7 linked regions of the Homo sapiens genome follow. The protein of the gene in region 1 interacts with the protein of each later gene in a biochemical or structural test. Each region holds a gene or a part of one and is shown in the gene's direction. Other genes may lie near its edges.

Region 1 (2,551 bases):
CTGGGGCTACAAATTGGTGGGGATGGATTCTACTGTGTCAGCACAAATGCTCTTCACAGTGGTTCTAGCATTTAAAAAACTTCCCGGGGAGAAGAACAGAGGGGATGATGGGCAGTTTCCTAGGTAACACCTAGAGTTATAGAATATCTCATTACATAAAATGTATGGAATTAATAATACCAAAATTAATTATTTGATGGAAAGATCTGCTTTGACTAAATGTCAAAAATCTGCAAACCAAAGACATTATCTTCCCCTCATCCCAACTCAACTACGAAACTTAAAATTCCCTTTAGAGTGATAGGACATTTAGTAAAGTATTTGCAAACTTAAAAAAAGGAACATTTAATGATCATCAAAATTAAGTACAGATTCAGTAATGTAGACCAGACCACACACCAGCACCTGTGAGTCTCATCTCAGATCACAGCTCTCAGCATAGGGCTTCATGCATCACCGCCTCTACAGAGGCTAAGGCTGCCAGTCAAATTTGGAATTATAGCGTAGTACTGGGACAAAATCTCAAATCTTGGATGTTCCAGAAAATCAGGGAGAGATGGCTACTGTAATCATGGGAGCCATGAGTAAATAGTTAAGTATTTATTAAATAAATACTTAATCTGGATTGGCTGATAAAAATATGAAATCTGAAAAAAAAAAGAAAGAAATGGAAGTGGTATATTTGACCAGTTCAAGTGAAACCAATGGAATGCAAAGAACTTTCCAGGACTGTCACATCTCTAAAAGTACCCTGCAGTCATAAAATAAAATCGATATGTATATATGTATTTCCTGGGTCATTCAGTGCTCAAGTTACATGCACTCCTACTTAGACAGGTGGCTCCTTAAGAACATGATGGGAGTACACCAGGTGCAAATATTTCTACTTTTGTAGCCTGCTGAGAAGGAGTCATAACACAGTCCACAATTGCAATCTCTCTCTAGTCAGCCATTCCACAGGGACTCAACAACAAAAGCCGCACGTGGTTATGGATGGCAGCAAAGGAAAGGAGTTTAGGTGTGTGTTATTATAAATAATGTTTAACTAAATAATAAAACATTATTTCATTACAATTATAATTATAAATATTGGTGTTTTGATATTGAGAGATATTAGTGGTGTTTACTGTGGAAAATCTTAGTAAATATCATTCTGTGTACTAAAATCCTAACCTATTAATAGGATGTGTGCCCTATGTCAGACAGTGTGCTAAGCATATTAACTATATTATCTCATTTAATCATCACAACAATCTGCTGGTTTGGACACTATTCTCTCTGGAGGCAATATGGATGAGTTCTTACGGATATGGGGTTTGGGGTCAGAAACATCTTGATTAAAATTTTGACTCTGCCATTTTCTAGCCCTTTTATGTTGGGAAAGCTACTTTTTCTAGTCTCAATTTCCTCATAATAAAATGAAAATCAATTATAAGATCGATTTCCATAGGGTTGTCATGAGTTTTGAGTAAAAATGTGTATGTAAAGTTCTTACCACAATACCTGGCAGAGAGTAAGTATTCAATTAATGTTAGCTATTATTATCATCATAATCGTTGTGTTAAATATATTGCCCAAGATAATATGTGGGGGAATGTTTGTTTTATATGCATATTGTATCCTGACTGTGTGCAGAACACATTATGTGTATTGCATATATGTAAAAGAAGTGTACAAGGAAGTGGCCATCCTTGTTCAAGTTACGTATCTAGTTAGAACAACTTCCCAGTCCATTGGAGTTCTTTGAGAAGCCTCAGGGAAGTAGCTCTGGGTCCTTCTAATCAACCTCCCATTACTGCGCCAGTAAGTTTCTGTTTCTTATAAATAAACTCTTTGCTATTCAGAAAACCTCAAGGGGCCCCCACATTCACTAAGCATGGGGCTCCTAACTGGGGTCCAGGTCCATAGAGTGTAGGAAGAACATATTAGAACAATACTTGTGCTTATTTTTATCTAGCTTTTTTATGTTTGTGTATGTTTTATAATGGCATAATAGTACAATGGTACATGTACATAATTTTAAATAAATAAATGAATGAATGAATAAATAAGCATATGCCTGGTGCATGCATGTGACAATATTGTCGCAGGTAGGGTTGCATTCACTGAAATCTGGAGAGCACTGAACTGGAGAATAAACCTTCCTTATACTCACGGTTCTTTATGTTTAGTCCCCAGTCTACTTTGCCAAGTTTATCTCCTACCATTTTTATTAATCTTTTATCACAAATCTTTCAAACAAAAGTAGACACAATCGTATGAATTCATGTGGACTCATTACCTACCGATTCATGTCTAATCTTATTTTCTGTATTTCTACCCACCTCCTCTCCCACTGTATGATTTACAAGCAAGTCCCAGACATCATAGTGCTTAGCCCATGAATATTTCAGTAAGAATATCCTGTGAGAACTTTTAAACATAACCACAATGACGTTTTTGCATTTTAAAAATTGGGAATTCCTTAATATTATCAAATAAACATTACAGAAATAAATGATGGAGAAAGTAATAATCCCCTTAAACCCAACTTCCAAAGATAACCATTGTC
Region 2 (5,138 bases), on another chromosome or scaffold:
CTTGACTTTGGAGAGCAACCCACTTCCTTTCTTGGTGTTTGGTCCCTTATGTCCATAAGCTTTCATAAAATCTTTCTCTTTGCTACTGTATGCTGTGATCTCTTTTGATTTCTATCCTGGGGGATCAAAAAAGCCCACAGGGCGTTGGTGCCAGAAATCAGCTGTGCAAGCACAGAAAGGGAGCAGAGGCTGTTGCCTGGCTCAACTGGTGAGGAGCAAGACTGGAGAATGAGCATGCAGTGAGTTCTAATACTAGCACATTTCTTACCCACTCAACACCTGATCCCTTCCCGACACATCCAGGAGCCTTGGTTCTCTCCTTCCTCCAACTCTCTGAGAGTGAATGCTGCTGAGAACCACTGTGGTTTTAAAATACTCCGTGCAATACAAAGAACTCTCAGATGCATCCTGTGGTTTGAGAGCACCTTTATGTGTCATTCTCATCATTAACCTCAATGAATGCATACTAATGATCTAATATGCACCAGAAGCTACACAAAAACACTTTGTAGTTGTTAGCCAATTCATTTTGGCTACAGCCAGCCAGAAAAGAGGAAACTGAGGCACAGAGAAGCAAATGTCAACCCTACCTGGAAGTGTCAGTCTGAAAAGATCAGTTGAGTCTTCCTCTACCAGACCCCAACTTGTCTGGTCTCGTGAAGAAAGACAGAAATGGATGGAAAACCATTCTTATCACCTTCTTGCTGGAGAGTTAGGGAAGAGTCAGCTGGTCCCTAACAACAAACTTTGCCCTACTCCAGTACTGCCAAAGGGGTCTTTGTTGTAACATGGCCTACAAGGAGAGGACATCTTTCTGGGAAAGCACCTAGAATGTGGCTGGCACATATTCAATGCCCAGTAAATGTAGCTATTATTTTTTCAATCAACACTCTTACATACCCCTTTTCCACTCACCCTCTTCTCCCTTTTTTTGGTCACCCAATAAGCAGAAATTCCAGATGCATCCTTCGGGGTGGTTGGGAGCAAAGGATCCCCAGGGTGCACTGTGCCCTGGGCTGAGGTATCTCTGAGGTGCTTCCATCTTCTGGGTCCTTCCTCACTGGGGTTGTTGCCTCAGGCTCTCAGGACTCCCCTGGAAATCTTCTGATGGGAAAGGCATTGATTGACTTGCCACCCTTTCTCTACCATCCCTTTGCAATTCTGGGAGAGTTGCAGCCCCGCCCTCCCAGGCTTGCAAAGGTAGACGGAGAATTATATTGGAATTTAAATCGGAAGCTCTCAAGGCATCTCAAAAATACTTTCTCTATTTTTTTTTTCCTGTAGATATTGGAGAGGTTGGCAAACGGGTCTTCCTGAAGACAGAAGAATGTATGATTTAATGTTTTCTTTAGATTTCTGTATGAGTGGATGCACAGTGCTCCGTATTGTGTGGTGGGGCGGGGTGTGTCTTCTTATTGATGAAATACACTGCGCAGGTCAACTCGGTAAATTGAAATGAGAAGAGCCGACTGCGGGGGTGGAGGGGGTGTGGTATTAGGGTGCCGGCGCTTGTGGAGGGGGGCGCGAATGTGAACGTGTGAAAGCGAGAGGCGTGCCAGGAGAGCGCGGGAAAGCTTACTGGTGAGGCAAGTGTGCGTCTATTTCCATGGCGCCCTGGCTCGCGGCAGCCCCTGGCTGGGCGAGGGGTGTGATGTGGGAGTGGGGTGGGAGGGGGCAGCAGGCGGGGCCTGCCACGTCACTTGGAGAGTGTGTGTTGGGAAGGAAGGGCAGAGCGGAGAGCCGAGCCGCTGCAGCTGCGGCGGCGGCAGCGAAGCCTTGAGCCGTGGGGAGGTGGGTCCCCGCGCTCGGGCGCCGGGGCAGCCCCGGGCCCTCTGCGAGGCCTGCGGCGCGGCTCCTAGGGAGGAGGTGGCGGCTGTGGCGGCCGGAACCGCGACCTTGGCCGGACCCAGCCCCGCGGTGGACGCAGGGCGGAGGCCGAGCCCCGCCAGGAGTCTTTGCCGAGCCGGAGGGAGGCGCATCTGGCGCTTCGGTACCAGCGGCAGCCGGGGGTCCGGAGCGGCTGGAGGAGCGCAGTGGGAACTGGGAAGAGCTAGCCCGGCTGGAGGGCGGACCTCTGCGTCCGGGAGCCGGGTCTCAGGCACCGCTGGGGGCGAAGCCACGCGTCTTTTCGGGCAGCCAATTTCACACGCGCCTGTGTGCGGTTCCGGGCATCCCAGTAAGCTCTAGCACCCGGGCGCGGGTAACGGGAAGCGCAGAACCAAATCCCCAGCGCCCAGGTCACCTCCCCAGACCCAGCCTTGCAGGGACCAGGGCTTTAGGGCTCACGGACCCAACGGCCAGGTCAGACCGCGAACCGGGAGGAGCGCGGGCCCCACCCTAAAGAGGGCGCAGCCGGGAGCTGGGGAGCGGGTGCCGCGCTCCAGAGATTGTGTCGTGGGCGCCGTCCTAGTGGCGGGGAGCGCACCTCCGAGGGGGCATGAGATCGGAGAAATCCCTTACGCTGGCGGCGCCGGGGGAGGTCCGTGGGCCGGAGGGAGAGCAACAGGATGCGGGAGACTTCCCGGAGGCCGGCGGGGGCGGGGGCTGCTGTAGTAGCGAGCGGCTGGTGATCAATATCTCCGGGCTGCGCTTTGAGACACAATTGCGCACCCTGTCGCTGTTTCCGGACACGCTGCTCGGAGACCCTGGCCGGCGAGTCCGCTTCTTCGACCCCCTGAGGAACGAGTACTTCTTCGACCGCAACCGGCCCAGCTTCGACGCCATCCTCTACTACTACCAGTCTGGGGGCCGCCTGCGGAGGCCGGTCAACGTGCCCCTGGACATTTTCCTGGAGGAGATCCGCTTCTACCAGCTGGGGGACGAGGCCCTGGCGGCCTTCCGGGAGGACGAGGGCTGCCTGCCCGAAGGTGGCGAGGACGAGAAGCCGCTGCCCTCCCAGCCCTTCCAGCGCCAGGTGTGGCTGCTCTTTGAGTACCCAGAGAGCTCTGGGCCGGCCAGGGGCATCGCCATCGTCTCCGTGTTGGTCATTCTCATCTCCATAGTCATCTTTTGCCTGGAGACCTTACCCCAGTTCCGTGTAGATGGTCGAGGTGGAAACAATGGTGGTGTGAGTCGAGTCTCCCCAGTTTCCAGGGGGAGTCAGGAGGAAGAGGAGGATGAAGACGATTCCTACACATTTCATCATGGCATCACCCCTGGGGAAATGGGGACCGGGGGCTCCTCCTCACTCAGTACTCTTGGGGGCTCCTTCTTTACAGACCCCTTCTTTCTGGTGGAGACGCTGTGCATTGTCTGGTTCACTTTTGAGCTCCTGGTGCGCTTCTCCGCCTGCCCTAGCAAGCCGGCCTTCTTCCGGAACATCATGAACATCATTGACTTGGTGGCTATCTTCCCCTACTTCATCACCCTGGGCACTGAGCTGGTGCAGCAGCAGGAGCAGCAACCAGCCAGTGGAGGAGGCGGCCAGAATGGGCAGCAGGCCATGTCCCTGGCCATCCTCCGAGTCATCCGCCTGGTCCGGGTGTTCCGCATCTTCAAGCTCTCCCGCCACTCCAAGGGGCTGCAGATCCTGGGCAAGACCTTGCAGGCCTCCATGAGGGAGCTGGGGCTGCTCATCTTCTTCCTCTTCATCGGGGTCATCCTCTTCTCCAGTGCCGTCTACTTCGCAGAGGCTGACGATGACGATTCGCTTTTTCCCAGCATCCCGGATGCCTTCTGGTGGGCAGTGGTTACAATGACCACGGTAGGTTACGGGGACATGTACCCCATGACTGTGGGGGGAAAGATCGTGGGCTCGCTGTGTGCCATCGCTGGGGTCCTCACCATTGCCCTGCCTGTGCCCGTCATCGTCTCCAACTTCAACTACTTCTACCACCGGGAGACGGAGCAGGAGGAGCAAGGCCAGTATACCCACGTCACTTGTGGGCAGCCTGCGCCGGACCTGAGGGCAACTGACAACGGACTTGGCAAGCCTGACTTCCCCGAGGCTAACCGGGAACGGAGACCCAGCTACCTTCCTACACCACATCGGGCCTATGCAGAGAAAAGAATGCTCACGGAGGTCTGACCCATGCAGGCAGGGCCTGCAGGAGGGGAGCACTGAGCTAACAGTCTCTTAGGCTTCCTTCTCATTTCCACTACTCACTCTAGCTTCAGTTGACTTCTTGACTCTCTCCCCTACACCCACTACCTGGCATCCAGGACCAAATACCTGGACTATCAACCTTGTTGCTTAATCCCTGCAGCATTCAAGGTTAATCCATCTAAGTGACATTTTTGAAATTCCAGCGGTGCCACCCAATCATGCCCAGCTTCTGTCATATGAATGAGATATACATTTATGTCTGACCTTCCCTCAAGACTGATTTTTCATGTCTGGGACTTACAATATCTCAAGGAACAGCAATGTCAACAGGATGGAAACCAGCCCTATCTGAGTCTTCGCTCCCTCCTTAGTGTTCTTTGCTTTGGGTCATGTGCGTTTCCTAGCTTCAGGCTACTTGGTAACTGGAAGAAGCTGGAGGACAGAAGCAGTACTCAACTTGCTGTTATTCCAGTGCCCTGTAACAATCACTGGTCCTCCTGCAGATGACCCTTGGTAGAGTCTTTATTTGCATAGCCTCAAAATAGGTTATTCGTTTCTAAACTTGGATGGAATTAGAGAATACAATCAAACTTTACCACTTGGAGGACACGGGGTTAGTCCAGGACCAAAGAGGCCAATGGATTTTTCAAAGTGTGCCCCAGCACAAGAGGCACTGGTGTTCGGTCTACATTTAGTTCTCCCCACTCTGATCCCCTGACTCTCCAGCTTCCAGGAAGGTTCCTTCTCAGAGCCAAATACTCTTTGTGCAAGTGCCTTCCTGAGCAGAAGAACTGGAGAAAGGGAACCACAGAGCCAGGAGGAATGTCTGAGCAGAGTCAAGCAACTGGCTTGACCACAGTCTGAAGCAAGGTGCCACTTAAACAGATACTGTTTTCTCAAAGGGGCAGAGGAATCGTGTTGCAGATGGCAGCCTTTTCTCCTTCATTTTCCCCACATTTTCTCTGGCCCTCTACCTTGCTTCCTGGGAGTTTGATTTAGGATTGCTGTTGAAGGCTTCCTCAGGCAAACTCCAGCTTAAAGCCCTAGACAGGTAAAAGCACACATTGGATGGCAGCATGGGTTTCTTCCCATT
Region 3 (4,038 bases), on another chromosome or scaffold:
TGTTGGCCAGGCTGTGCTCAAACCCCTGACCTCAGGTGATCCACCCACCTCGGCCTCCCAAGATGCTGGGATTACAGGTGTGAGCCACCGCGCCCACCCTGGGGCTGTTACTGTTAATGGAGGATGCAGGAAGTGCCCTATCAGATGGCAGTGGACTCCTCTCACAGCCTGGGTTGCCAGCCTGGGGTCCAGGATAAAATGTTGAACCCCCACTGGTTGGCAGGTTGGCTGCATACCTCCCACTTCTCCCCATTCTAGAAATCAGGTGACTGAGGCTTGGGAGGTGGAAGTAGCTGGGATTGGCAGCCCTGGGTCTTGGGCCCCGCCCCCAGCCCCAGCAGCTGCTGACACCCTTTGCAGATGTCCAGGATGACCCGTGGAGGGGAGGTTGCATTTCCTCATCTCGGTCTGCCCACCTGAGCATGCACACATGGCAAGTTTGTAGGGTGGAAAGGCACCAGCCCGTGGGTTAAGGGGCCTAGAAGGGAGAGTTGTGGCCCAGTCTGGGCCAGCAACCAGCTGTGTTACCTGGGGAAATCCCTCTGCCTCTCTGTGCCTCGGTTTCATCATCTCTGTCCAGTGAGTACAGTGGAACACATGATGACATCTCCCTGATAGCTTGGAAAGTGGTGACTGTGCTTTGGTAGGCACCGATTCTGTGCCAGGCCCTACACCCATGGCTGAACCCGATGAAGTGGGCACTGCGAGTACCCCCGGTTCACAGGGAGGACGTCACACCGTGGCGAAATGGCCAGCCAAGAGTGGAACTTGGGTCTGGGGGGCCCAGAGTCCACAGGCCTGACCACAGCACTCTCCCATCTGCAGCTGCCAGTCCCTCTCCTGGGTACAGAGGCTGAGAAGCAACTGCCCTGCACACAGGCCTGACTCCCCTCACCTTCCCAGCCTGATGGCCAGGCCCCCTGACAGCTGTTGGCAGGTCCCCAGCGGCCCCCAGCCCACTGGGCTCCGTTCCCAGAGCCTGCGGCCTGCTCCTTAGACCTTCCAGGTCCCAGGGGCTTGCGGTCTGGCCCCTGCCCCTGCTGCTGAGGCCAAGGAGGCGGCCCACAGGGGCTGGGGCTAGGAGAGGCCCCAGCCCCCGCCCCCTGCGGAGAGGGTGGGGAGGGTGGAGCTGTGGGAGTTTCACTGGTTTAAAAATACACAGAGGAAGCGAGTAAGAGAAAGGGGAAGGGGAGGTGGGAGAGGCACCTCAACTTTGATGTCCCGAGCCTTGAGTGGCCACTCGCAAGCTGGCCAAGGGCTTCACACAATTTGCCAAGATGACAGAGGGGACCAAGAAGACCAGCAAAAAGTTCAGTGAGTGTGGGGTGCCGTCTGCACTGTCCTCCATCCCTGGCTCTCCTCTGGGCCTCTCTCTGCATCTGTTTCTTCATCACTGTCTCATTTCTGTTTTTCTCTCTCTCACTCTTTTTCTTTTTTTGTTTTTTGCTTTTGGACACCAGCGTCTCTGTCACCCAGGCTGGAGTGCAGTGGCACAATCTCGGCTCACTGCAGCCTTGACTTCCCAGGCTCAAGTGATCCTCCCACCTCAGCCTCCTAAGAAGCTAGGCAAGTAGCTAGGACTCCAGGCACAATTAAATCTTTTTTTTTTTTTTTGGCCAGGTGCAGTGGTGGCTCACGCCTGTAATCCCAGCACTTTGGGAGGCCGAGGCTGGTGGATCACCTGAGGTCAGGAGTTCGAGACCAGCCTGGCCAACATGGTGAAACCCCTCTCTACTAAAAATACAAAAAATTAGCTGGGTATGGTGACACGCACCTGTAATCCCAGCTACTCAGGAGGCTGAGGCAGAAGAAACGCTTGAACCCAGGAGGTGGAGATAGCAGTGAGCAGAGATTGCACCACTGCACTCCAGTCTGGGCGACACAGCGAGACTGCATCTCAAAAAATAAGTAAATAAATAAAGTAAAATAAAACTGATTTTTTTTTTTTTTTAGAGACCGGGGTGGGTTCTCACTTTGTTGCCCAGGCTGGTCTCGATCTCCTGGGCTCAAGCGATCCTCCTGTTTCCCGCCTTGTTTCTGTTTCTCTTTGTCCATCACTGTCTCTCTGCAGACGTCTCTGCTTCTGGGCATCCCGTGGCTTTCTGGCTGTCACTCTGGCCCAGCATCTCTGTCTCTCTGACTGACTTCGTTCTCCATCTCTGTGCTTCTCTTTATCCGTCTCTTTGTCTCCCCACCGCGTCTCTCGATCTCTGCAGTCCACTGTGTCTCTGGCTGTCTCTGACCTTGCGGCCGGGCAGGGGAGGCATTCGCACACTCCATCCCCTGCCCGCAGGCCTGGGCTCACATGGGATCTCAGGTGGGGAGTTACTGGGGCAGCAGAGGGATGGGGGCGTCATGGGATCCCAGGTGGGGAGTTACTGGGGCAGCAGGGGGATGGGGGCATCATGGGATCCCAGGTGGGGAGTTACTGGGGCGGCAGGGGGATGGGGGCATCATGGGATCCCAGGTGGGGAGTTACTGGGGCGGCAGGGGGATGGGGGTGTCATGGGATGCTGTCTCACATTCCCAACAGCAGTGAGGCTGGGACCCAATACTTGGGTGGGGAAAGAGCACAGAGGTACTAGAATCAGGCTCCACGGTGAGGGGCCACACTTGCCCACTGCTCTGTTTTCCTGTGTCTGTCCTTCCCAGTCCCAGCAAACTTTTTCTGTCTCCTGATTCCTTTGATCTGACCCCACCAGGGTGGGGGACATGTGGCGTAAAGGGCAGTGATTGTGACTGCATTTCCCAGATGGCAATGCTGAGGCGATTATGACTGCATTTCCCAGATGGCAACGCTGAGGCCCAGAGACTTGCTTGAGGTCACACGGGCTATTGAGCAGGGCCCAATCCCAGACCCTGGACTCTGGGCCTCAGTTTCCCTCCCAGCCCCCACTATCTCCTCCAAACGTCTGGTGCCCAGGAGGCAAAACCAGTGGTGCTGAGAAAGAAGGCAGTTGGGGGTCCTCCCTCTGGCCACTGATTCAATTTCCACCCCCACCGCATGCAGCAGAGCGGCCACATTTGCCGACACGTTTCTCAGGAGACCAAGGCAATAACCAAATAGGGCCGGCAGGGCTGGGAAGCAAACCCCTGAGCACTGACCCAGCTGTGCTGAGCCCTGGGCCTGTGTCCAGGCTCAGCCATGGCCTTGCTGTGTGACCCTGGGGGAGTCCCTCCCCATTGCTGGGCCTCAGTTTCCTCCCTTGTCAACTGGGGGCATCCTACCTGCATCCCAGCACGGGTGCGAACAGCTGAGGAGGTGGAGGATGCTGAGGATGTGGAAAATGCCGGAGTTTTACCTTTTTGCTCATCTGGAGGCTGTGGGGAAGTCAGTTGGTGGTGGCTGTGAGAAGGGACAGTCCCACAGCTGGGGGCAGGGGGAGGGAACTCACATACACCCCCGCAGAAACCAGGAGATGGTATCACCCCAGCCGTTCCTCTTGAGTCTGGAGCTGGGCTCAGCTGACAGGAAGGAGAGAACCACAGACAGTGCGACCCTCAGGCTCACAACAACCCCCTCCTCATTCCACCCCCACCCCAGGTGCACAGAGGCTGGCTGGAACACTCCCCAACCCCCTACATGAGCACAAAACACGCACACCTGCTCCACCTACCAGCGGTGTGAGCTCGGTTCATTACACTGCTCTGAATCTCAATTTTCGCATCTGGAAAATGGGGATTAAACTGTGTCACTGAGTTATGCTGAGAATTCATGCAGCACATTTGGCAGATGCAGAATCATTTTCAGAAATTTTTAAATTATTATTATTAGTGGCCAGGCACGGTGTCTTACCCCTGTAATCCCAACACTTTGGGAGGCCGAGGTGGGTGGATCCCTTGAGGTCAGGAGTTTGAGACTAGCCTGGCCAACATGGTGAAACCCTGTCTGTACTAAAAATACAAAAACCAGTTGGGCGTGGTGGCACGTGCCTGTAATCCCAGTTACTCGGGAGGCTGAGGCAGGAGAATCGCTTGAACCCAGAAGGTGGAGGTTGCAGTGAGCCAGGATTGCACCACTGCACTCCAGCCTGGGTG
Region 4 (5,176 bases), on another chromosome or scaffold:
CCTGAGTTCCAGTGAGAAAGCCCTCAGGACTGAGCTTCAGAGGGCTAAGTTCTTTCCAAATTTAACAGTCAGGCACTCAGAGAAAAGACTGCCAACCATTTGATGGAGGTGTTTCACATCTGAGTTTGATGAATGGTATTCCACCCTGGATAAACTGGAGAGATGCTCTATTTAATTGATTGCAAACCCTACTTTGATTTCTAAGCCTCTTCTATCAGAGCAGCCTTACATGGAGCTAAAGTTGTGATTTCAGAGGCATTAGCAAACTTTTGTCCTCCACCTCCCTTCAAAATATCTTTCCCATTAAAAAGATGGATTCTTTAATAAGTGATGTTGCATTAACTGGTTAGGTACTTGGAGAAATTGTTACATTACCTAAAAAATTGATACTTTAAAACATTAAATTATTTATTTAATGTTTGAAACAGTAAAATTATGAAACGGTAGAAAAGAACTAGAAAAAAGATCTGATGAAAAGATTTTCTAATTTTTAGTATGCAATTCCTTTCTCGCATAAAAGCTAAGGAAGAAATTATAAAAGAAAAGACTGCTAGATTTAGATACATAAATTTAAAAAACCCTCCGCACTGATCAAGATATTATAAATTAGGCCAAAAACAAAGTTGAAAAACATTTTGGTATTTATGTCAGAAAAATATTTTATATTGTAAACATAGACAGTGCTTTTCTACATAAATAGGGAATACTCAAACTTACCACAGCCCTTTGCCCATTCACAGACTATGATCACAATAATAATAATAATATTCATCATCACCAAACAATGCTAACGATACTAGCTAATACTTATTGAGCATTTCCTTGGACTTTATGTTTGTTTACTCACTTAACTTTTCCAACAAAATTTTGAGGGACAGCAGTGGGCTGAATGTTTATGTTCCCCCAAAATACATATGTTGAAGTTCTAGTCCTTAAGGTGATGGCTTATTAGGCATGGACTTTGAGAGGTGATTTGGTCATGAGGGCTCTGAGATCAGTGCCCTTATAAAAGAGACCTCAGAAAAATCCCTCATCCCTTCTGCCATGTGAGGTTGCAATGAGAAGACAGCAGTGGTCAATGAGGAAGCGGGCTTTTATCAGACACTGAATCTGCCAGCACTTTGATCTTGGACTTCCCAGCCTCCAGACTGTGAGAAATAAATCTCTGATGTTTATAAGCCACCCAGTTTATGGTATTTTGTTATAGCATCCAGAGCTGATTAAAGGAGGTTCTCGCATTTCTCCCATCTTACAATTGAGGAGATTAAGACAAAGAGAGGCCAGTATGTAATTTGCTCAGGGTTATGCAGCTAGCACATGGCAGAGCCAGAATTCAAAGGCTTTCTTCCTTCAAGAGGCAAGAACAAGAGATTTTAAAAGGTTGTAATACAATTGGCCAATGAATGTCTAAAATAGTCAAACTTAAAAATAAACTAAAAAAAAAGAATATTAGTTGTCTTTTTTTAATGCCAGGATTCAAAGCACAATACCACACAAAGAACTTTTGACCCACAAGAAATATATACATTATTTCTACTTAACACACACCGAGTATTATTATAATGGTTAGGAGAAAATGAATCAGAGCATTTTAGAGAGCTTTAGGACTGTCCAGCGAACAGCCCAGACGCAGGGCCTACCTGGCCTCGGGAGCCTTTAGCCATCTTATCGCTGTCCTCGGGGCCGATGGTCAGCGCACGCAGGACAGGAAGAAACTTCTGGATCACTCCTGGAAGACCCAGGGCGCCCCTAGAGACAGGGCCCTGGAACCCGGGACAGAGTGGAGGGAAGCAGAAACATTGCGAATCGGGGGTGGCGGCAGCAGCGACATGAGATCCTTTGCCCTCCGCCCCCTGGGCTGCGGGACCCAGTGACTTCGAGGAGGAGCGCGAGCGCAGCCGCGCGGGGCGCACCCGGATCCGCCTGGGGCGGGAGCCGCCCCCTTCCCGCCGCAGGCGGCGCGGGGCTGCGAGTCAAGTCCAGGACTCGGGCCAGTCTCTCCGGAAGACAAGACCAACCTCGCGCCGCGGCGCAGCAGCACGCGGGTTCTGAGAAGCGCGTGGCTCCGGCGACAAGACCCCAAGCACCCTCGGCCGGTGGCCCGGGCCCGACCACCCCAGCTGCGCGTCGTTACTGGCCACAAGTTTGCTCTGGGCCAGCCAAGTTGGCAACTTGGAAGCTTCTCCCGGGCTCTGGAGGAGGGTCCCTGCTTCTTCCTACAGCCGTTCCGGGCATGGCCGGGCTGGGGGCGTCGCTCCACGTCTGGGGTTGGCTAATGCTCGGCAGCTGCCTCCTGGCCAGAGCCCAGGTAAGAGCCAGTGCTCCGCGACACCTGTTTTCGCGGAGCCTCCGGCGGGGACTCAGCTTTAGCGACACGGAGGCCAGGTGCGCGCGAGAGCTCATTCATGTTCACACGTCCACAAACGCCCCGGCACGCACCGAGGCGTACCCGGCAGGTGCTGGCAGGCAATTAGTGGAGGGAGCTTCAAAGATCTGCTTTAGTGGAGTGATGTCCTGGGGCCGGCACTGTTTAGACCAGCATCCTGGCATCCGCAAAGTAAGGGGATATTTCCGAACAGCGGAGTCGTGGATCAAGAGTGTGAGGCTGGGAAGGTGAAGGAACTTTTCTTACTCTTAAACTCCGTGGTCCCCATTTAATTAATCGAAATGACTTTTGTCTGCTGGTAATTTACCATCGCTTTTGAGAATTTAAATTTACAGGATCGATTGTGACCACTATCTGAAAGAATAATTGGCTGTCTGTGATACAGAATCACATACATTCAAGTTAGGAGACAGAATAAAAATACCAAAATACAGCTCATTTGTTAATGTTAAGCGGTGGCTGTCACTTTTGTACTGCTAATATCATTTAGAGATTTTCTGGGCGATCTTTCACAATGAAGCCTCTTTAATGTGCAAGGCACAATTCATACGCACTTTTTTTTTTGAGTCAAATCAAATGTAGGGTTTACAGTCAGCTTTTCAGATGAGCTAGAGAGATGCGTGTAGTGGTGGATGTTATGCAGTTCAAGAGCCCTGTGAATTTAAACCGAATCAAGGTATTTCTCTCCGGTTCGGTAGGGGGTGCACCTAGACCGTCAAATGAAGGCCCAATAAAAAATTATTTCACCGTGAGAATTCAAAGCAGTGATTTATGTGTTGATACTGTCTAAACTTAATACTATGTTCTCGGCTTTCAGATGACTAGTTTAAATTTCAATTATTCTAAAAGTGCAGTTTAAAAAACCTATCTGTTAAAGTCATAACCAGAGACATTAAAACTTAAAGGGGATTTCTAGGCTAGGTGCCACGCTAAAAGTGGGCTTTACTTAACATGACCAAGATGTTTCATGTAGATTTATTTTGTTAATAAATAAATTTTGTTAATAAACTAAACAATTTGTGTGTCATACATTGACTAATAATATTAGCAATGGATAGCTGAAAGTAAGATACACTTAAACCTGAAAAAATTCATCAAGTTACCAGAAGGAATATGAATGCATGGAAAAAAATTTGGTGATAAATTTCCATGATCGTTATAGAACTCTGGTAATCTCTACTATACTTCCTACATTTTTATCTCATAAGATATTTGGATAATATGCTTAAAAATGGCATCTTATATACAAGAGGCAACTGAACTCTAACCGTTTATTTTATTTAGTGTTCTAGATTACTTTTTGTAAGGAAATGGGGAGGTATTATTTAGTACAATAAGAAAAAAAAAAGGCTTGGTGTGGTGGCTCACGCCTGTAATCCCAGAACTTTGGGAGACGGGAGGATCTCTTGAGCCCAGGAGTTCGGGGCTGCTCTGAGCTATGATCATGCCACTGCACTCCAGCCTGGCAACAAAGTGAGACCCTGTCTTGAAGGAAGGAAAGAAAGAAAAGAAAGAGAAGAAAGGAAAGAGAGAGAGAGAGAGAAAGAGAGAGAGAGAGAGAGAGAGAGAAATAAATAATAAATAAATCACCATGGGATTGTGGGCAGAATATTTTCTTTTGCTTTCAATAAAACAATCAGGACATTGAATACTTCTATAACTTTAAACCAGGATTTCCCAACCTTGGCATTGTTGACATTTTGGGACATATATAATAATTCTTTGTTTTGTTGGGGGTGGGTGTGTTGTCCTGTATATTGCAGAGTATTTAGCGCCACCCTGTCTCCTCTATCCACTAGATGCCAGTAGCCCCCCTCCCCCTAACTGAGACAACCAAAAATGTCTCTAGATGTTGCTGTACATAGTTTGGAAGGCAAAATCACTCCTGGTTGAAAATCATTGCTTTACACGGATTTCCATTTATATCTATAGATTATGAATTGCATAAAATGACAGTTTGTGGTATTATATTACATTTGCCGAATTTTTGACATTTTAAAGTCTGGAGGTTAAATTCAAGTGATTTACATTGACAAACTGATACATTTTATGACCTTCAGTTTCTTCATCTTCAAAAGAGTCATATTGGGCTAAGATTCTTTTAATTCTATAAGTCTTGGTTTATTACTTTTAGGTTACAGTCATTCTCTACTCTGAAATTCCATTAGTTAACCTGGAGTATAATAGAGACTAAATACATTCTGGGTATTATTTACTTCAAATATCAATTGCTGATATTATTAGCTTAAGTATGAGAGACAAGGTATTTATGAAAAATGAGGCTGGCTTTATTAATTTTTTTAGCATACCCAGTTAATGATGAATATATTGCTAGCTAACACAGATATTTCAAAAAAATTATAACATATTGATAGAAAACCAAAGGGAACTCACCCAGGCAGAATGAGCTTGTGTAGAGTAAATATTTAGTATTCAGTAAACACTGGATCACACCATAAAATAGATGATATAGACCAGTGCTCATCAATTGTTTTAAGGGTCTCTGTGGTTTCTGGTTGGTAAAGATATACTTTTGTCTCAAAGCACAGTTCAAAACCCGTGCATTCATACATCATTACAGAGCCCAGCAATGCATTTTCTATAGTCAGATTATCACATGGTAATGAGGACCACTATATAAACATGTTCAGTATTTTCTTTACTGTGTTAGTGGATCCTCCTGGTAACAGACTGTAGGATGGAATTGGGGTGCTAGAGGTTTATTAGGGGAGGAGGTAATGCTTGTGAAAGTTGAAAGGGAGAGGGAGAAGGATTGGACAGGGGTAACCT
Region 5 (4,477 bases), on another chromosome or scaffold:
TTACAGGTGCGTTTGCTAAGTGCCAACTGAGTCCTCTGGTCCCTGCCTGGGAGGAGCTTAGGATCAAGCACCAGGGGAACCAGCTCTGTGTGTGGGGTTGGTACATCAAGGAGCATTTGGTTTTTCTTGTTTTTGTTTTGAGACAGGGTCTCACTCTGCCCCTCATGCAGTGGCACAATCCTAGCTTACTGCAGCCTTGGATGCCTGGGCTCAAGCAATCTTCCCACCTCAGGCTCTTGAGTAGCTGAGACTGCAGGTGTGCACCATCACACCTGGGTAACTTTTTAATTTATTTGTAGAGACAGGGCCTCACTATGTTGCTCAGGGTGGTCTCGAACTCCTGGCCTCTAATGAGTCTTCCACCTCAGTTTCCCAAAGTGCTGGGATTACAGGCTTGAGCCACTGCACCCAGCTCATTTGTATTTTTATGAAGCATTTTTGGATGCTGTGGAAATTGAAGGAAAATGTACACAACTCAGCCTTGTGATTAAGAAGTATGACGGGAGCTTTGTGTGTTCCAGCCAGGAGGTACACCTGGGATAATCTAGTCCCAATTAAACCTAGTGGGGGATCAAAATCATCTGGGGAACTTGTTAAAGGTACGGGTTCCTTGGTCACCTTCCCACCCCACTCTGTGGTCATTCTAAGTGGGTCTTCAGTAAGGCCAGGTATTTTTTGACAAACATCCCTGGGGATATTAATCATCATGAAGGTCTGAGAAACACAACAGTAATCCTAAACATTCATTTAAGAATAATAATCACAATAGTAATGAGAAGGAGGAAGAGGAGGAGGAGGAGGAGCAGGTACCTATATGGCACACACTCTTCTAAGTGCTTCACATCTATTTCGTTAATTTTCACAACAGTCCTATGATTTGGAAGCTACTAATATCTATATTTCACAAAGGACAAAAACTGAGGCACAAAGAGGTTGTGTAGGTTGCCCAAGGTTATGAGTTAGTAATGGAATTCAGACCCAGCAGTCCGCCTCTAGAGTCCATGGCCTTGACCACTGCACTATACTGCCTTGGTAGTTGAAGAAGCCAAGGCTCGGAAAGGGCCAAGGACTTGCCCAGGGTCACACAGGACACACCTGGCAGAGCAGACTGGAACTCAGGTCTCCTGACTCCCAGCCTGGGCCACCTCATGTCTCAGAGGCCAGTCCCAGGATGGCGGCTTAGAAGTGACAGCCTATCATCCTGACCCTAATGTCACCATGCTCTTCTCTTCCAGGTGGTATCAGCCTGACCATAAAGGACCCCCGATGGGTGGGTGCCTGGTGGCTGGGTTTCCTCATCGCTGCCGGTGCAGTGGCCCTGGCTGCCATCCCCTACTTCTTCTTCCCCAAGGAAATGCCCAAGGAAAAACGTGAGCTTCAGTTTCGGCGAAAGGTCTTAGCAGTCACAGACTCACCTGCCAGGAAGGTAAGCTCCCTCCATGTCACCTGACTGGGTCCAGGCTCCAGCACCACCCACTTGTTCTCCTTTGTAACATTACACTTCGGCTGGGCGTGGTGGCTCACATCTGTAGTTCCAGCACTTTGGGAGGCCAAGGCGGTTGGATCACGAGGTCAGGAGATCGAGACCATCCTGGCTAACACGGTGAAACCCCGTCTCTACTAAAAATAGAAAAAATTAGCCGGGCATGGTGGTGGGCACCTGTAGTCCCAGCTACTCAGGAGGCTGAGGCAGAAGAATCGCTTGAACCTGGGAGGTGGAGGTTGCAGTGAGCCGAGATTGCACCACTGCACTCCAGCCTGGGCAACAAAGCAAGACTCCGTCTCAAAAAAAAAAAAAATTACACTGCATCCCCACTGGGCACTATACTTTCTGCCTGGGCTCCATCACATCTTTCTGACAGCCTTGCACAGTGAATATCACCTGCTGTCTCCACAGCTGAGGAGACCCAGAGCCAGTGTTGGAAAGTGACTTACCCAAGATCACAAAGCCAGCAAGCAAGGCAGCACTGGGATGAGAACCCGCACCTTTCTGAGCCCATGCCCCCATACTAACCACTACAATATGGCCTCTGTGCTCATCACTTAAAGTTTTTGTAAATTCTGAATGTGCCATAGGAATGTTAAGAATTGGGAGGGTGGGTAGGATCATCTGGGAAGACTTCCCTGAAGAGGAGGGATTTCAGCTGGACTTTGAAGGATTTGTGGAAGCACAGAAAGGAGAGAGCAACAGAGATTCTAGGCACAGAAGCACCCTGCATGAAGGATTTGGCTGTAGAAATAAACCTGGCCCTTTCGGGGACAGTGAAGGGAAGAAACATGCATGGAGTGCAGGCCCCAGGCTGGATCTGAAGATCAGTCCGTGGCCTCCACCCTTCCAGCGGGCACAGTCTAGGGAGGACACAGACTCACGGAGAAGTCACGACCGGTGTGATGCTCCAGGGGTATCTAGAATCCTCCTCCTCTGCTCTTGGGGCAGGTGGGTCTCTCCTCAGAAGCGGACACAGAGGCCCAGCCCAGTGGAGGGATTTGCCCAGGGTCACAAAACTGGTAGGAGAGGACAGGATCATGTGAGCCACCAGGCAGGATAGCCATTCTGGGCCAGGGACTTCCAAGTTTTTCAGATACCCACAAAAACACGAGGCCTGAAAAACAACAAATTGGCTTCAAATTAAAAAGAAAATGACAAAATAGAAACAATTTTTAAAGTTTATTTATTTATTTTTATTTTTTGAGACAGAGTCTTACCCTATTGCCCAGGCTAGATCTCGGCTCACCACAACCTCCAACTCCCAGGTTCAAGCGATTCTTCCGCCTCAGCCTCCCAAATAGCTGGGATTACAGGTGTGTGCCACCATGCCTGGCTAATTTTGTATTTTTAGTAGAGATGGCGTTTCACCATGTTGGCCAGGCTGGTCTCGAACCCCTAACCTCAGGTGATCTGCCCGCCTCAGCCTCCCAAAGTGCTGGGATTACAGGAGTGAGCCACCGTGCCAGGCCTAAAAGTTTAATTACAAGCCAGTAATGTCAAGTTCATTAATTTTTTTAATACTTATACACATTTCATTACATTCTGAAAATTTGTGCATTAGATTTCCTCCTTCTCAAGTATGGGAGGTGGCTGTTGAGAAATCATAGACAATCATAAATTAAGTAACTTACTTGTTGCTAAGTAATTCTAATTTCAAAGGGACAATTTATAAAAATCCTGTTGAATGTTTTTGCTGCAAGAGCATTTCTGTGGCAGGTTGATGCATTTGAATATGTTTGGAGAGGGTGGGGGCGGGGAGAGAAATGAGACAGCTCTGATGGTGGTCCAGGCCAGGTGGAAGCCGTGCATTGGCAGTGAGGGGATAGAGGTGCATCTGGGAGCTACCCAGGTTGGGGACTGCACATAGCTGCCCTGCTATGGGATGTCCCCAAGACAGTGATGAGTTGGGCTGATGCTGGGATTGGGTGCAGCTGTCTCAGAGGCAGGGGGAAGCAGCTGCCAGGGAGTGAGCAGTTTCAGGGGAAGAAGACAGTTTGGAACTACAGATGGGCCTTTCTGATTCTGCCTAGTTCAGGCCAAAGTTTCGAGAAGATGAAATTCCTAGAACTTAAAGGTGGAGTGATGTTTATAAAGGAAAGAGAGAGAGCCTATATTGCTGGTTACAGATGATCTCCAAATTGAGTCCTAAATTTGAACAGAGAAGAATGCCAGTTGAGCCACGGGTGGGATAGGTGACAGAAGCAAAGTTTAGGGGTGGGAGACCACGCTGGGCTCTGTCACATGCCAGTCATGTGACCTTGAGCAGCAAGCCACTTCCCCATTCTGTGCTGCTGTGTAAGATGCTGAGGTTAGGTTCCTGGAGCAATATCCTGTGCGCCTCAGATTCTGAGAATGCACGAGTCCTTGAGTCGGAGCTGCTATGATTCAGATACTCAGATTTTAAGAGCTGTGTCTCTATGATGCTTTGAAACCCTGGCTCCCCAGCTGTGAACCTGTCTGGCTGTCTGGATTCATTCTGTCAGCACACTGGGGATGGGGAGTGGGGAGGGAAGGGGGTGAGAGGTTCTTTAAAAAGAAACAAGGGCTGAGAACATGATGATCTGCTTCCAGCAGCTCTCAGGCAATAAATATTGATGTGGGAGGAATTGTTCCTCCACCTCCCTGAGGCTGCCTTGGCCGGGTCTGCTTGCAGTAACGTGGTTGGCCTGGCCCAGGAGGGCCACCAATGAGGAGTTGAATAAACCAGGAGCAAAGGCCCAATGAGGCTGAATTGGCTGCCAGAAAGTCCAGGCCCCCAGACATGGGATGTGTATCTTCTGCAGGGCGAGAGAATGGGCAAGAGGAGAAAGTGAAGGGCAGAGCTAACTCTGAAATCTCACCAGGCGTCCCCTCCCAGGCTCAGGGCTCAGGGGTCCCCTAAATACCCTCTTAGAAGTAAATGCTGTTTTTAAAGGTATCCGGGAGATTGGCAGTTTGTAATACAAGAATTATGTGCCCCCGAGAAGGTTTCTGGCCTCAGTGTCTCTA
Region 6 (3,534 bases), on another chromosome or scaffold:
CACCACGTACCGGGTCATCTTCACGGGGATGCCCACGGACCCCCTGGGTGAGCCTGCAGACTCTCTGGCCCTGTCGCCCCCTCTCCCCCAGGTCTTTGGGATGGATGGGCTTTCCCTGCCTCCCTCTCCCTTTTCTCGGGGGTTCTGGGTGCCCGTGGGAAACGGGCCTTTGTCTGCTCCTTCCCCACCCACTTGGGATTCCCCATAACTGTGGTACCCTGAGATTCTGGGACCCCCCCCCCCTTACCTTCCTTGCTTCTGACTCTGCCTGGCCTGTCCTAAGTTGGGGAGCAGGTGGTGGTCCGCTCCTTCCCGGTGGCTGCGCTGACCAAGGAGAAGCGCATCAGCGTCCAGACCCCTGTGGACCAGCTCCTGCAGGACGGGCTCCAGCTGCGCTCCTGCACATTCCAGGTGGGGCGCGGTGCGCGGGTGGGGCTCTCATCCCCCGCCCTGGTCTTTCTCCTGCAAACCGGTCTTTCTTGTATGAACCATTTTTAGGCCAGTCTCCAGCAGTGGCCCTGTTGTTACGCTTGCATGTCTGGGGCCCTCACTGTGGCTCTTGAGTTGATGTCCACTGTTTGATGTGCGGTCTTTGGGTCCTTGTCCTTTCCTTGGGGCGCCGGCCCTCAAGTCCGTGTCTTGGGTGTGCCTTGCAAACCCAGGCCTCAGCTCACAGCCACTGAGATTTCGAGTTTACACAAGCGCTTGCCTTCGTGTGACACAGATACAGGCCTTTGCCTGGGGCCTGCTTCTCTCTCTGTCATGGCTGCGAGGGGAAGGGGAGCCTGGCAGTGTCAGAGTTGGGGGAGGGGCTGGGGGGCCACCCACACCCCTAAGGGCTGCTTTTACTGACACAGCTGCTGAAAATGGCCTTTGACGAGGAGGTGGGGTCTGACAGCGCCGAGCTCTTCCGTAAGCAGCTGCATAAGCTGCGGTACCCGCCGGACATCAGGGCCACCTTTGCGTTCACCTTGGGCTCTGCCCACACACCTGGCCGGCCACCGCGAGTCACCAAGGACAAGGGTCCTTCCCTCAGGTATGGATCTGGGTCCCAGGCAGGGCAGCTGGGCCTCAGCCGTGTTCCCGCTCCAACCCTCCTAGGCCCCTGTGCTCATCTTTGTCCCTCCTCCTCTCACCTTTGCTGACTCTCGTGGGCCTCAGAACCCTGTCCCGGAACCTGGTCAAGAACGCCAAGAAGACCATCGGGCGGCAGCATGTCACTCGCAAGAAGTACAACCCCCCCAGCTGGGAGCACCGGGGCCAGCCGCCCCCTGAGGACCAGGAGGACGAGATCTCAGGTGGAGGGGTGGGGGTGGAGTCCTGGGTGGTCTCTGGATGCTGACATTGGCCAGGGAGGATCAGGGCAGGCGGAGTGGCCCCGTGATGACCACGTGTGCCCGGCCTGTGCAGTGTCGGAGGAGCTGGAGCCCAGCACGCTGACCCCGTCCTCAGCCCTGAAGCCCTCCGACCGCATGACCATGAGCAGCCTGGTGGAAAGGGCTTGCTGTCGCGACTACCAGCGCCTCGGTCTGGGCACCCTGAGCAGCAGCCTGAGCCGGGCCAAGTCTGAGCCCTTCCGCATTTCTCCGGTCAACCGCATGTATGCCATCTGCCGCAGGTGAGGGCCGGCCAGGGCTGGCCCGGGTGGTGGACACGTGACTGGGTGTCTTCCCTGCCCGCTGTGGGCCTGGGCCACGGCTTCTGGTCATGTAAGGAATGTGGAGGGGGAGACTCCGGGCAGAGGGACGGGCCACAGGGCTGGGGGGTGGCTGGGGGGCCCCGTGGCTGAGCTGGAAGCGCCTCCTGCTGGGAGCCATGGGCTGGCTCCTCTTGCCCTGCTTGGGGCGTGAGCCTGGAGGCGGGTGGGGTCGCCAGCCACCTTCACGCCTCTGCCTCCTCTCAGCTACCCAGGGCTGCTGATCGTGCCCCAGAGTGTCCAGGACAACGCCCTGCAGCGCGTGTCCCGCTGCTACCGCCAGAACCGCTTCCCCGTGGTCTGCTGGCGCAGCGGGCGGTCCAAGGCGGTGCTGCTGCGCTCTGGAGGCCTGCATGGCAAAGGTGTCGTCGGCCTCTTCAAGGCCCAGAACGCACCTTCTCCAGGTACCTCCTGCGTCCTGCCCTGTGCCTGCCCTGCCCTATCTCACCCTCCCCTCCCTCAGCTCCGTGTCCTCCCCCAGGCCAGTCCCAGGCGGACTCGAGTAGCCTGGAGCAGGAGAAGTACCTGCAGGCTGTGGTCAGCTCCATGCCCCGCTACGCCGACGCGTCGGGACGCAACACGCTTAGCGGCTTCTCCTCAGCCCACATGGGCAGTCACGGTGAGGGTGCTTGTGGGCAGACGGTGGGGCAGGGGCACTTTGGGGGGCCGTGGTGGCATTTATGGTTTGGCAGGCAGGCCAGGGAGGAGCAGAAACGGCGCTGGTCATGGATGTTTGGGTGTGGGATGAGGAGCATGCCCTCCGGGTGCCGTGGGGCAGGGGCGGGAAGCCTGTCCAGACCAAGTGTGTGCCCAGACCAGGTGTGTGCCCTGACCTCCTGCCCGCCCTGACGTCCTGCCCGCTCTCCACCTCTGCGTCTGCTGCAGCTTCCTGTAGGGTCCTCCGGGTGCTGCCTCTACGCGGCTCTGTCTTACCATTTCCCACAGCCTGGAAACATCCCAGATGCTCCTCTGTCCTGTTCCCTCCCAGTGTCACTGTTTTTCCTCATCCCCCACACTCCACCCTCCCTGCATCCCCCAATCCAGACTGTCTTTGGAGCCTCTGGCCTGGCTCTGCCTGCAGCTTGGCCTCTGTCCTCGTGTGTCCTGGTTCCTTGGGCCTTGCCCGAGCTGGCCTTGCTGTCTCTGTCCCCACCGCCACGCACACTTCACAGGCGCCCTGCACACACTGAGCTAGACTGGCCCCAGGACGGGGTGGCAGATAGGCCCCACACTCACTCCTGTGTCCGGACCACCTGTTCTCTAGTTCAGAAGTGGTTTTGTTTTTCCAGATACCACATTATATACTTACATTTTACAATCGCCCTGTCTTGCTGCCTTCCCACCCCTGCCAGAAACCCTGAGTGGCATTTGCAGGTGGGGCCGCCCCTGCACCCCCCATGCCTGTGCTTCCCACAGAGTCCCTTTTGCGTCTCCGACCATCCCCAGTGCCAGTGGCTGCTGCCTCCCCGTGTCCCCCTCAGTGCCCAGCAATGCTCAGGGGCTCAAGCTTCACTCAGCTGTAGTCGTGGCTTCTAGTCCCAGCCCTGACCTTTTTTTTTTTTTTTTTTTGAGTCGGAGTCTTTCTCTGTCACCCACGCTGGAGTGCGGTGGTGCGATCTCGGCTCACTGCAAGCTCCACCTCCCAGGTTCACGCCATTCTCCTGCCTCAGCCTCCCGAGTAGCTGGGACTACAGGTGCCCGCCACCGCGCCCGGCTGATTTTTTTGTATTGTATTTTTAGTAGAGACAGGGTTTTACCGTGTTAGCCAGGATGATCTCGATCTCCTGACCTGGTGATCCGCCCGCCTCGGCCTCCCAAAGTGCTGGGATTACAGGCGT
Region 7 (3,358 bases), on another chromosome or scaffold:
AATTGTGAGTGCTGGAGGAGCCGTCTTGAGGGTGTCTGCCACATGAATAGAGAAAGCAGTGTGCAAGGAAGACAAGCAGCTTTCTGGAAAATGCTTCTTAGAAGATAGACTGGTATTCCTCACTCTTGTGAATCGACAGTCAGGCTTTTTATTCAGTGTTGCCAACAGTACCAAAGCCTACCTTAACAGACACGCAGGTGTGCATGGAAGGCCACGCCAGTGGTGTAGGTGTTTTAGGCTTCTGGTCCTAATATGATAGAACTAGAAGAGAAGATGGTTAGAAGAGAAGCACAGGCCTGCATGAGGAGGAATGTTACATGAGAACTACAACTCATCTTCAGAGAGCGTTGGCCTAAGAACAGTCAGTGCGGGACCATAGAAAAATTCAGTCATTCACCAATATTCCAACACGCCATTTTGAAACTGGAAGTAATTCCTTCATTCTTAGATCCTCAGAACCTCACGATTTTACAGTACGAAGGGATTGAAGGAATCTTGTCCAACTAACTCGTGCCCCAGGAGAAGGGAGATGAACTTTGTCTCCCACTGCCCACTAGGTGGTATTCCCACTCTAGTCCTCAGGCACAAAGCTGAAGGTTGCAGATCTTGGTCCTGCCCCTCACTGTGCCCCCAAACTTTCTGGTATTGTCCTGGGGTCAGCCCTCTCCCAAGGGTCCCGGGTATGATGACCTCGGAGTTGCATCCTGGCCCAGGCTCTGCTGCCTGTTCTGGCTCTGAGTCTCTTCTGTAAAGAGGATGAGATTGTGCCTCCAGAGGAATCGGGGCTCCCTTCTGGCATTTCATTCAAAATGTGTTCAAAGAAACAATCTCATTTCATCTTAATGGGAGGAGGTGTTTTTTGTTTTTTATACTAAATTGAGGTATCAAAATAGAACCGCACAATTAAAGGAAATTGTTAATGTAGGTATTGCCTTGGGGTTTCTCAAATCTTGCACAGGAAAATATTTTTATTAGAACAAATCCCTTCACAGATTACTAAAATTATCTCTAACAAAACATGGTGATGGGTTGCATTTACAGATTTAAGAATTTCAGGAAATTATAAGGAGAAATACCAGCAGATGTGGTTGTAATATGACTTTATTTATTTTGTAAATTAGTTATTTGGCATGTTAGTTGAATAGGTTACTCTCTTAGCATTCCTAATTATAACCAAAGATGCTGTTAAGGTCATTAGCCCCTTGCTTTGGAGTGCTGATGCATTTGTAAATGTTCTCTGCCTGCAGTAACAGGCTATGGGAGGAATTGTTTCCAGGGGCTGCAGGGTAAGAGTTACATTATATGGCATATGAAATAAAAAGACTCCTTACAGAATTACAGTAGGAATATTGATAAACGTTCAACTATTGACAAGTGGGTTTTATTGTTGTTGTTGGCTTGGTAGTCAAGTTGTCCCATGAAAGCTTACCTATTACCCAAGTTTTCTATAGTATTAAAGTAACATATTTTTAGGTATGATTGGACACTTTTAAGACTTTGTTCCTAGTACTGTAGAGGATTTGGGAATATACATACCATGAAGAAACTTTTGATTTCTGCTCATTAAGTATGAAAAATTATGGATAACTTAGGGACAATCAAATTATCTACTCATATGGTAAATTTGGAAGTATTTCTATGGATCTTCTAATGTTAAAAAAAAATAAGCTTGTGTTTAATGGGTGGAACTCCATACACATTTGTGGTTTTCAGGAGAAAGTTTTTAAATATATTGGTTGGCCAAAGTAAGATAACTGAAACGTGTTGAGGTTTTTTTTTTTTTTTTAAACTTTGTAGCTTTGCTGCCAATCCCATTTCTTGCCCTTTTCAGTTTATGAAGTTAAAAAAGTGACTGTTGCAAGTATTCCTGAGAAATTGGTAGTACAGAGGGAGAAGTTTTGCTTCATTGCAAAAGAGATAATTCACGACGTTGCAACCGGGGGGCATGGAAGGGATTCGTAGGAACTCAGTGGCATGTAATGAGCTGGGGAACAGGGCTTGGCTAAGCCCTCATTCCTACGTTCATCAAGTATTTGCTGGGTTTTGAGCTGAGAAATGCCAACCGGGCGTGTTCAGAAGGCGGATCTCACCAATCCGGAGGCAGCTGGAAGAGTTCGCGCGTGGGAAACCTCAGCCCTTTCTTTCTTCCCGGCACAGCGTTGTGCTGCCGCGCGTCGGCGCAGGCGGGGGCGCAAGGCCCGGGTCGTCCCCCTCGCGCGGTCGGGAAAACAGCTACTGAGCTGCGGCCCACGACCCTCGGCCGCGCAGGGGCGGGGCGGGGGCGCTGCGGGGTTTCTCTGTTGCTAGAGCCGTGATGTCACCCGCCCCTCCTAACCCGCGGTTGGTTGTTTTGTGTTTCAGCTCTGCCTGCAGTTGAACACAAAGACCTGGAGGAGACTCCCACCTCCTTCAGGGAGAAGAAAGGAGGCAGCGAAGCAGATTAAAGGAACTTGTGGCTTGTGGCCTTTTTGTGCAAGGGCCGCCTGGAAGGGGAGAAAAGTGTATGAAAGCCACCGTGGCGGTTAATGAGCTGTGAGATGAGGCGCTGCTGCGGCCGCTGCTGCTGACACTCGCTCCCAGGCTGCACCCGCCGCCCTTGGCGCTTCATGTACATGTGTCTATTCAGGCCTTGCGGAGGCGCCCAGAAGAGCATCCAACACGGCTGCCGGGGAAAGACCGCCCACCATGCCCACGGAGACCCTACAGACAGGTAGCATGGTGAAGCCGGTCAGCCCCGCGGGCACCTTCACCTCTGCTGTGCCCCTGCGCATCCTGAACAAGGGGCCAGACTACTTCCGCAGGCAGGCCGAGCCCAACCCCAAGAGGCTCAGCGCCGTGGAGAGGCTGGAGGCCGACAAGGCCAAGTACGTCAAGAGCCAGGAGGTGATCAACGCCAAGCAGGAGCCCGTGAAGCCCGCCGTGCTGGCCAAGCCCCCGGTGTGCCCGGCTGCCAAGCGCGCACTGGGCAGCCCCACGCTCAAAGTGTTCGGCAACCACGCCAAGACCGAGAGCGGCGTGCAGAGGGAGAACCTGAAGCTGGAGATCCTGAAGAACATCATCAATAGCTCCGAGGGCTCTAGCTCGGGCTCGGGGCACAAGCACAGCTCCCGCAACTGGCCGCCCCACCGGTCGGAAGCCACTGACCTGCACCGTCACTCCTTCGCGGAGTCCCTGAAGGTCTACCCCACGCAGGGCCGCAGGAGCCCGCAGGAGGGCGGCTCCCACGTGGGCAGGAGACTGCTGGAGCAGTCAGCCGAGTCCTTCCTCCACGTGTCCCACAGCTCTTCGGACATCCGCAAGGTGACCAGCGTGAAGCCCCTCAAGGCCATCCCCTGCAGTAGCTCTGCCCCTCCCCTGC

What was found.
Region 2: the proteins of FRMPD4 (region 1) and KCNA6 interact in a test that uses a peptide from one of them, tested with the Homo sapiens proteins (one large-scale study listed by IntAct).
Region 3: the proteins of FRMPD4 (region 1) and SH2D3C interact in a test that uses a peptide from one of them, tested with the Homo sapiens proteins (one large-scale study listed by IntAct).
Region 4: the proteins of FRMPD4 (region 1) and PTH2R interact in a test that uses a peptide from one of them, tested with the Homo sapiens proteins (one large-scale study listed by IntAct).
Region 5: the proteins of FRMPD4 (region 1) and SLCO2B1 interact in a test that uses a peptide from one of them, tested with the Homo sapiens proteins (one large-scale study listed by IntAct).
Region 6: the proteins of FRMPD4 (region 1) and SBF1 interact in a test that uses a peptide from one of them, tested with the Homo sapiens proteins (one large-scale study listed by IntAct).
Region 7: the proteins of FRMPD4 (region 1) and FAM110B interact in a test that uses a peptide from one of them, tested with the Homo sapiens proteins (one large-scale study listed by IntAct).

Annotation. Positions count from the first base shown.
Region 1 is NC_000023.11:12,722,473-12,725,023, forward strand, and holds the end of FRMPD4 (FERM and PDZ domain-containing protein 4), read left to right. Parts: 3' UTR 1-2,051; downstream 2,052-2,551. UniProt on the Homo sapiens protein: Positive regulator of dendritic spine morphogenesis and density. Required for the maintenance of excitatory synaptic transmission. Binds phosphatidylinositol 4,5-bisphosphate.
Region 2 is NC_000012.12:4,807,605-4,812,742, forward strand, and holds the start of KCNA6 (potassium voltage-gated channel subfamily A member 6), read left to right. Parts: upstream 1-1,729; 5' UTR 1,730-2,437; coding exon 2,438-4,027; 3' UTR 4,028-5,138. UniProt on the Homo sapiens protein: Voltage-gated potassium channel that mediates transmembrane potassium transport in excitable membranes. Forms tetrameric potassium-selective channels through which potassium ions pass in accordance with their electrochemical gradient.
Region 3 is NC_000009.12:127,775,867-127,779,904, reverse strand, and holds the start of SH2D3C (SH2 domain-containing protein 3C), read left to right. Parts: upstream 1-1,238; 5' UTR 1,239-1,277; coding exon 1,278-1,314; intron 1,315-1,973; exon of another isoform or gene 1,974-3,364; intron 3,365-4,038. UniProt on the Homo sapiens protein: Acts as an adapter protein that mediates cell signaling pathways involved in cellular functions such as cell adhesion and migration, tissue organization, and the regulation of the immune response.
Region 4 is NC_000002.12:208,404,811-208,409,986, forward strand, and holds the start of PTH2R (parathyroid hormone 2 receptor isoform 1 precursor), read left to right. Parts: upstream 1-1,981; 5' UTR 1,982-2,233; coding exon 2,234-2,308; intron 2,309-5,176. UniProt on the Homo sapiens protein: This is a specific receptor for parathyroid hormone. The activity of this receptor is mediated by G proteins which activate adenylyl cyclase. PTH2R may be responsible for PTH effects in a number of physiological systems.
Region 5 is NC_000011.10:75,171,144-75,175,620, forward strand, and holds part of SLCO2B1 (solute carrier organic anion transporter family member 2B1), read left to right. Parts: intron 1-1,235; coding exon 1,236-1,426; intron 1,427-4,477. UniProt on the Homo sapiens protein: Mediates the Na(+)-independent transport of steroid sulfate conjugates and other specific organic anions.
Region 6 is NC_000022.11:50,458,036-50,461,569, reverse strand, and holds part of SBF1 (myotubularin-related protein 5), read left to right. Parts: coding exon 1-47; intron 48-283; coding exon 284-411; intron 412-857; coding exon 858-1,036; intron 1,037-1,161; coding exon 1,162-1,298; intron 1,299-1,410; coding exon 1,411-1,618; intron 1,619-1,903; coding exon 1,904-2,100; intron 2,101-2,177; coding exon 2,178-2,315; intron 2,316-3,534. UniProt on the Homo sapiens protein: Acts as an adapter for the phosphatase MTMR2 to regulate MTMR2 catalytic activity and subcellular location. Promotes the exchange of GDP to GTP, converting inactive GDP-bound Rab proteins into their active GTP-bound form.
Region 7 is NC_000008.11:58,143,546-58,146,903, forward strand, and holds part of FAM110B (protein FAM110B), read left to right. Parts: intron 1-2,361; 5' UTR 2,362-2,685; coding exon 2,686-3,358. UniProt on the Homo sapiens protein: May be involved in tumor progression.